Linked DNA regions of Homo sapiens. The protein of the gene in region 1 interacts with the protein of each later gene in a biochemical or structural test. Each region holds a gene or a part of one and is shown in the gene's direction. Other genes may lie near its edges.

The links.
Region 2: the proteins of ATF7 (region 1) and PTP4A1 form a complex in vitro, tested with the Homo sapiens proteins (one study listed by BioGRID).

Annotation. Positions count from the first base shown.
Region 1 is NC_000012.12:53,518,279-53,522,104, reverse strand, and holds part of ATF7 (cyclic AMP-dependent transcription factor ATF-7), read left to right. Parts: intron 1-3,826. UniProt on the Homo sapiens protein: Stress-responsive chromatin regulator that plays a role in various biological processes including innate immunological memory, adipocyte differentiation or telomerase regulation.
Region 2 is NC_000006.12:63,578,654-63,582,479, forward strand, and holds part of PTP4A1 (protein tyrosine phosphatase type IVA 1), read left to right. Parts: exon of another isoform or gene 1-244; coding exon 245-375; exon of another isoform or gene 376-603; coding exon 604-678; exon of another isoform or gene 679-1,360; coding exon of another isoform or gene 1,361-1,403; coding exon 1,404-1,521; coding exon of another isoform or gene 1,522-1,558; 3' UTR 1,559-3,826. UniProt on the Homo sapiens protein: Protein tyrosine phosphatase which stimulates progression from G1 into S phase during mitosis. May play a role in the development and maintenance of differentiating epithelial tissues.

The DNA of each region.
Region 1 (3,826 bases):
TGTGCTCAGGACATGTGCAATTCTGAAGTTAAAATTACTGTGAATAATTTGCCTATGGTCAATAAAAGCTAATAAATGCTAGTTTTCTTTTTACAAATTAAATTCATAGAACTATTGCTCTCAAACTTTGATATATTGTATTATTTTTCCACTGTATTATTTCAGAGATGTGTTCCCATAGAAAAGGAGTAACTATATCACCAATTTTAAACATCTCTACTTAAATTTTAATTTTAATATGTACTTCAGGGTGCATTCATTCATTAAGCAGATATTGATGGAATGTCTATTCTGTGCCAGTCACTGTTTTTCATGCTGGGGATATAATAGGGAACCAAATAAATTAGATTAAATCCCTGCCCTTGAGGAGCTTATATTTTAGTGGGTGAGACAGACAATAAACAAGATAAATAGGTAAAATATATGACATGTTAGATAACAGTAAATGTTAGAAGAAAAATAAAACAGGGAAGGGTAATATGAAATGTTAGCAGCAGGATAGAAATTTTAGATTAGGTGGCTTTTGAATAAAGACCTGAAGGAAGTGAGGGAGCTATATGCATTTATATGGAAGAAAAGTACTATAGGGAGGAGGATCAGCAACTGCAAAGATGCAAAGTCGCAAGGTACCTGGTACATCTAGGAACATCAAGGAGGCTCAGCTGGAGTTGGGGGTGGAGAGTAGTTGGAGACAAGTAGGGGACGTAATAGCAGCATTTTATGTAGGGTCTCATCAGTCATGGTGAGGATCTCAGCTTTTACTCCACACTGGGGGCCATTAGAGGGTTTTCAGCAGAAAAGTGATATAATTGATCTGACTAGGCTGGGCGCATGCCTGTAATCCCAGCACTTTGGGAGGCCAAGGCAGGCGTATCACCTGAGGTCGAGAGTTCGAGACCAGCCTGGCTAACATGGTGAAACTGCTTCTACTAAAAATACAAAAAATTAGCTGGGCGTGGTGGCATGCGCCTGTAATCCCAGCTACTTGGGAGCCTGAGGCAGGAGAATCACTTGAACCTGGGAAGCGGAGGTTGCAGTGAGCTGAGATGGTGCCATTGCGCTCCAGCCTGGGCAACAAGAGGGAAATTCCGTCTCAAAAAAAAAAAAAAAATTGATCTGACTTACATTTGAACAGGACATCAGGGGTACAAGGGCAGAAGCAGGCAGTCCACTTAGGGGCTGTTACGGTAATACAAGCAAGGGATGACGGTAGTGAAAGTGACGAGAGCAGGCTGAATCCAGGATATGTTTTGAAGTTAAAGTGATGAGAGCAGATGGGATGGTATATATGAGAAAAAGAATAAAAAATTACACCAAAGTTTCTGGCTTAAGCAACCACAAGAATGAAGTTGTCATTAATTGAGATAGGGTAAAGTGTAGGGGAAATGGTTTGGGAGGTATATCAGGAACTCAGTTTTGGACAAACTGAGTTTAAGGAGCCTATTAGGCTTACAGGTGGAGATGTCAAGCAGTCAGTTGGTTATATGGATTTGTAATTCAGAGGAAAGGCTGAAGATAAAACTCTGGGAGTCGGCAGCATATAGCTAGTTTTGGTTTTGTTTGGTTTGGGATTTTTTGGAGGCAGGGTCCACCTCTGTCTCCCAGGCTCTCAAGTGATCCTCCCCACTCAGCCTGAGTAACTGGGACCACAGGCGTGCACCACCATGCCCAGCTAATTTTTTTTTGTTATTTTAGAGATGATGTTTTGCCATATTGGCCAGGCTGGTCTCAGACTCCAGGACTTAAGGGATCTGCCCGCCTTGGCCTCCCAAAGTGCTGGAATTACATGTGTGAGTCACCACACCTGGCCATAGTTAGTTTTTAAAGCATTGAAACCAGATGAAGTTCCCAAGGGAGACAGCAGAGCTAGAAAAAGAGAAGTCCCAGGAATGAACCATGGGGTACTCCAACATTTACAGTTCATAGAAATGAGAAAGAACCCACAAGAGACTGAGAAGAAACAACCAGGAAGTGAGGAGGAAAACCAGCTACAGAGCCAAATGTGGTATTCTGTAAATCAAAATAAAAAAGTGTTTCAAGAAGTTCAGTGATTTTAAATCCTGTTGCTCGGTGGCTCACGCCTGTAATCCCAGCACTTTGGGAGGCTGAGGCGGGCGGATCACGAGGTCAGGAGATCGAGACCATCCTGGCTAACACGGTGAAACCCCATCTCTACTAAAAATAAAAAAAATCAGCCAGGCATGGTGGCGTGCATCTGTAGTCCCACCTAGTTGGGAAGCTGAGGCAGGAGAATCGCTTGAACCCAGGAGGCAGAGATTGCAGTGAGCCAAAATAGTGCCACTGCACTCCAGCCTGGGTGATAGAGCAAGACTCTGTCTAAAAAAATACCAAAAAAACAAATCCTGTTGATGGGCTAAAGAGGATAAGGACTGTTTATCAGTATATAATCTATATACGGTCAGTTTTCCACTTAGTCCCTGCAAGAACTCTGATACATAGTTAATCCATTAAACTACTTATTCTTTTTTTTTCTCCTGCCTCAGCCTCCCGAGTAGCTGGGACTACAGGCGGGCACCACCACGCCCAGCTCATTTTTGTATTTTTAGTAGAGACGGGGTTTCACCATGTTCCCCAGGCTAGTCTCCAATTCTTGGCTTCATGTGATCTGCCCACCTCTGTCTCCCAAAGTGCTAGGATTACAGGTGTGAGCCACCGCACCCGGCCTTACATATTCATTATAGCAAAGATGTATTTAGTTCCTGCTGTGTGGTATAGATATTATGTAAGTACCTGACACATGATGAATAAGACACTGTCACTACCTCTGAGAGAATCATAGGGTCATATAAACCTGTGGATGAGGTAAGGATAGATATCCCAGTTAAAAAGCCCCTAAACTGGGAGCTTCCTAAGGATAGGGTTCCCGTTTTCTTCTCTGTGTACCCATGCCTGGTACATGGATGATGCTCAGTAAAATGTTTGATGAATATATGCTGTGAAAACACAAAGAATAAAACAGTTAATGTACTGAGGGTAACAAAGATGGCTTCACAGAGGACGCAATATTTGAATCTTTTTTTTTTTTTTTTTGAGACGGAGTCTCGCTCTGTTGCCCAGGCTGGAGTGCAGTGGCACAATCTCGGCTCACTGCAAGCTCTGCCTCCCGGGTTCACACCATTCTCCTGCCTCAGTCTCCCAAGTAGCTGGGACAACAGGCGCCCGCCACCATGCCCAGCTAATTTTTTGGTTTTTTTTTTTTTTGAGTAGAGACGGGGTTTCACCATGTTAGCCAGGGTAGTCTCGATCTCCTGACCTCCTGATCCGCCCAGCTTGGCCTCTGAAAGTGCTGGGATTACAGGCGTGAGCCACTGCGCCCGGCCATATTTGAATCTTAAAAGAAGACTCAGGCATTCATCAGGATGTCAGAAATACAACTGACTATGGAACGTTTGCCTTTTTTCCACATATTTCTGTTTAAGCAGCCATAGAGGCTATCCGATGTTTAATAAAACTCCTTGACTTGCTGAGTGTGATGACTCATACCTGTAATCCCGGCAATTTGGGAGTCTGAAGCAGGAGGATGGCTTGAGGCCAGCAGTTGAAGGCTGCTGTGAGCTGTGATTGTGCCATGGCACCTCCAGCCTGGGTGACAGAGTGAGACCCTCTAAAAAAATTTTAAAAACATTTGACTAATGAGCAACATGGAGTTACCATTGTATGTAGCTCAGGTAGTTGTGTTTAGTAGTAAAATGTTAGTGTCACTTTAGGTGGAGTGGCATAACTTATAATGTTTTATAATCATTAATGCCTAGCTAATTTTTAGTCAGGAGGGTCTTAAGATTTCTTTGTAGTTTTACATGTTAAC
Region 2 (3,826 bases), on another chromosome or scaffold:
TATTATTGTGCAGAATCTTAATTTCTAAATAAAGGTGAAAAGCTAAGCAAGGATTTGAAGTTGTGAAACATTTTTGTAAAGATTGAGCATTTAGTCACATTTGGTAGACAACAGGGTTTAATAAGATTTGATTAAACATTAAAATGAGAATGCTTTTGAAAACATTTCCATGTTAGAAATTTAGAATTATTACTACAGTGTTTATATTAATGATCTAAAATGTTTAAATATTCTTCTGACTTAGGATTGGCCTTTTGATGATGGTGCACCACCATCCAACCAGATTGTTGATGACTGGTTAAGTCTTGTGAAAATTAAGTTTCGTGAAGAACCTGGTTGTTGTATTGCTGTTCATTGCGTTGCAGGCCTTGGGAGGTAAATGAATTTATCAATTTGATTCTAGGTAAAAATCTATTGATAATGAAAATACAGAAACTTGAAAAATTCTTATAATTTTTTAATATAAAGTCAACATTTGTCATAGGTATTACTTAAATAGGAAGGGTGGTAGATAATACTTCTGAGTTGGGGAATGTTTGGAGAAATAAATTTACAAAGATCTGATTTTGAAAAAACTATTTATCAAAATTCTTACCTCACCAGAGCTCCAGTACTTGTTGCCCTAGCATTAATTGAAGGTGGAATGAAATACGAAGATGCAGTACAATTCATAAGACAGTAAGTAATGGATTCTCTTTTCATTTGTACTCTCTTTCATTTCCTTGTTGAGTGTCAGTGAGTTTAATAGTCTAATAGCCCATTTAATCATTATGATTATTTTTTGAGATAGTATTAAAACCAGGAAATCAAGATCTTACATTCTTTTTTGCATTTCATGCAGTTGCTCATATTACTAAGATTCTAATCCAACAAGAGTTTTTGAATTATTGTTTTGCTTTAAATACTTGATTGAATATGTTGGTTATTTTGTATTTTTATTGAGGTATAATTAAGATACATTTAAAGATACAATAAAATGCACAGGTCTCCAAAGGAGACCAGTTGACAATAACAGCCAAATTAACCATCCAATACAACACATAGAATATTTTGAGTGCTGTAGAACATGCCTTTGTGGCTTTTGTAGTCATCTTCCCTGCTACCAGAGGCAACTTCTGACTTCACTATAAATTAGTTTTGTCTTTTCGTGGACTTACGTGTAAATGGATTTGTGAGTCGACTGTTGTAACCAATACTCAAACGAAGATATAAAGAAAATTAACTTTTTATGATTTTTTCCATTTACACTGATGTGCCTGTTCATATTCCTTTCTGCATCAGGTCACAGCCTAATTAATCAAAAGATAAATTGCCACAAGAGAGGTGATGGTTGTCTATAAGACACTAAATATTACTGTAGGGGGCTTTTGCCTTGTTTCATTTTTTTTTTTTTTTCCTCCCAGAAAGCGGCGTGGAGCTTTTAACAGCAAGCAACTTCTGTATTTGGAGAAGTATCGTCCTAAAATGCGGCTGCGTTTCAAAGATTCCAACGGTCATAGAAACAACTGTTGCATTCAATAAAATTGGGGTGCCTAATGCTACTGGAAGTGGAACTTGAGATAGGGCCTAATTTGTTATACATATTAGCCAACATGTTGGCTTAGTAAGTCTAATGAAGCTTCCATAGGAGTATTGAAAGGCAGTTTTACCAGGCCTCAAGCTAGACAGATTTGGCAACCTCTGTATTTGGGTTACAGTCAACCTATTTGGATACTTGGCAAAAGATTCTTGCTGTCAGCATATAAAATGTGCTTGTCATTTGTATCAATTGACCTTTCCCCAAATCATGCAGTATTGAGTTATGACTTGTTAAATCTATTCCCATGCCAGAATCTTATCAATACATAAGAAATTTAGGAAGATTAGGTGCCAAAATACCCAGCACAATACTTGTATATTTTTAGTACCATACAGAAGTAAAATCCCAGGAACTATGAACACTAGACCTTATGTGGTTTATTCCTTCAATCATTTCAAACATTGAAAGTAGGGCCTACATGGTTATTTGCCTGCTCACTTTATGTTTACATCTCCCACATTCATACCAATATACGTCAGGTTTGCTTAACCATTGATTTTTTTTTTTTTTTACCAAGTCTTACAGTGATTATTTTACGTGTTTCCATGTATCTCACTTTGTGCTGTATTAAAAAAACCTCCATTTTGAAAATCTACGTTGTACAGAAGCACATGTCTTTAATGTCTTCAGACAAAAAAGCCTTACATTAATTTAATGTTTGCACTCTGAGGTGCAACTTAACAGGGAGGGCCTGAGAAAAGAATGGGAGGGGGCTATTAATTATTTTTAGCAAAATGTTGCCTTTGTCTTGTGCAAACATGTAGAATATGCTCTTTAATTTAGTAAAATATTTTTTTAAAAGGTAGAGATGCTTTGTTATTGTAATCATAAACTTCCTGAAATTCTTGTAATTTTTTTCCCATACTTATCAGAAGTGTGTTTACCAACTTATTTTTGTTTGAAAGTGTGATTTTTTTTTTCCTTCCCAACCTCTCTTGCAAAAAAAGAAATGGGTTTCTGCTAATGAATTGAGCAGACATCTAATATTTTATATGCCTTTTGAGCTGTGTAACTTAATATTTGGATACTTGACAATTTGTTTTATTATGTAATTGATAAAATGGTGATGTGTATTAATGTTAGTTCAACCATATATTTATACTGTCTGGGGATGTGTGGTTATAGTTCTGTGGGAGAAATAATTTTGTCAGTGTTCACCAGCTTGTAAAAACTTAGTGCGAGAGCTGAAACATCTAAATAAATAATGACATGCATTTATCATCATTGAGATTGGTTTGCTTAAAATTAACTTATTTTGTAGAAGACAAAATGAATTGCACTTCACTTAATGTGTGTCCTCATCTTTTTACAAATAAATGAAGGATTATAAATGATGTCAGCATTTTAGTAAACTTTTAGACAAAATTTGTTAGGGTCATTCATGAAAACTTTAATACTAAAAGCACTTTCCATTATATACTTTTTAAAGGTCTAGATAATTTTGAACCAATTTATTATTGTGTACTGAGGAGAAATAATGTATAGTAGAGGACAGCCTTGGTTTGTAAAGCTCAGTTCCACTAGTTCATGGTTTTGTGCAACTTCTGAGCCTCAGTTTTCTCCTTTGCAAATTAATAATTACATACCTTTATAGATTTTGAAATTAATTTAAATATTAGTATTTGGTACATGAAGGCTTAATGTTAAGTTTCCTTTAATGATCCACAATAATCCCTTTGATCACGTTAATCTAAATCTAGATGTCTTTGTCTAATTTTTTTTGAATAGCAGTTATAAATGTAAAGGACTCAAAGTTTAAGTAAAAAGTGATACTCCACCTTGTGTTTCAAAGAATTTAGTTCCACCTCTTCATACCAGTTTAACACTTAATATATTTCATTGGATTTTAGACAGGGCAAAAGGAAGAACAGGGGCCTCTGGAGGCCCTTGGTTATTTAAATCTTGGATTATTTGTGATAGTAATCACAAATTTTTGGCTAATTTTTAACCTGAGGTTTTGTTTTTTTTTTAAAGGAAATGCAGCCTAGTCTTGAGAACATAATTTTATATAATCAATTACTAAATGTTAAACTATTACCACACAGCCCATAAAACAGCATTTGCGTTTATTGAGAGAGAGGATGTGCCATCATGATTAATGAAAACTATCTTTTGAGTTTGAAAAGAAATTAATTTGCAGTGTTTGGATTGTATATATGGTGCTAAAAATAAATTAATTTACTTTATAAACCTTATCTGTACATTATACGATGTGATGAAATTTGCTTTTTATCCAAATATTTTGTA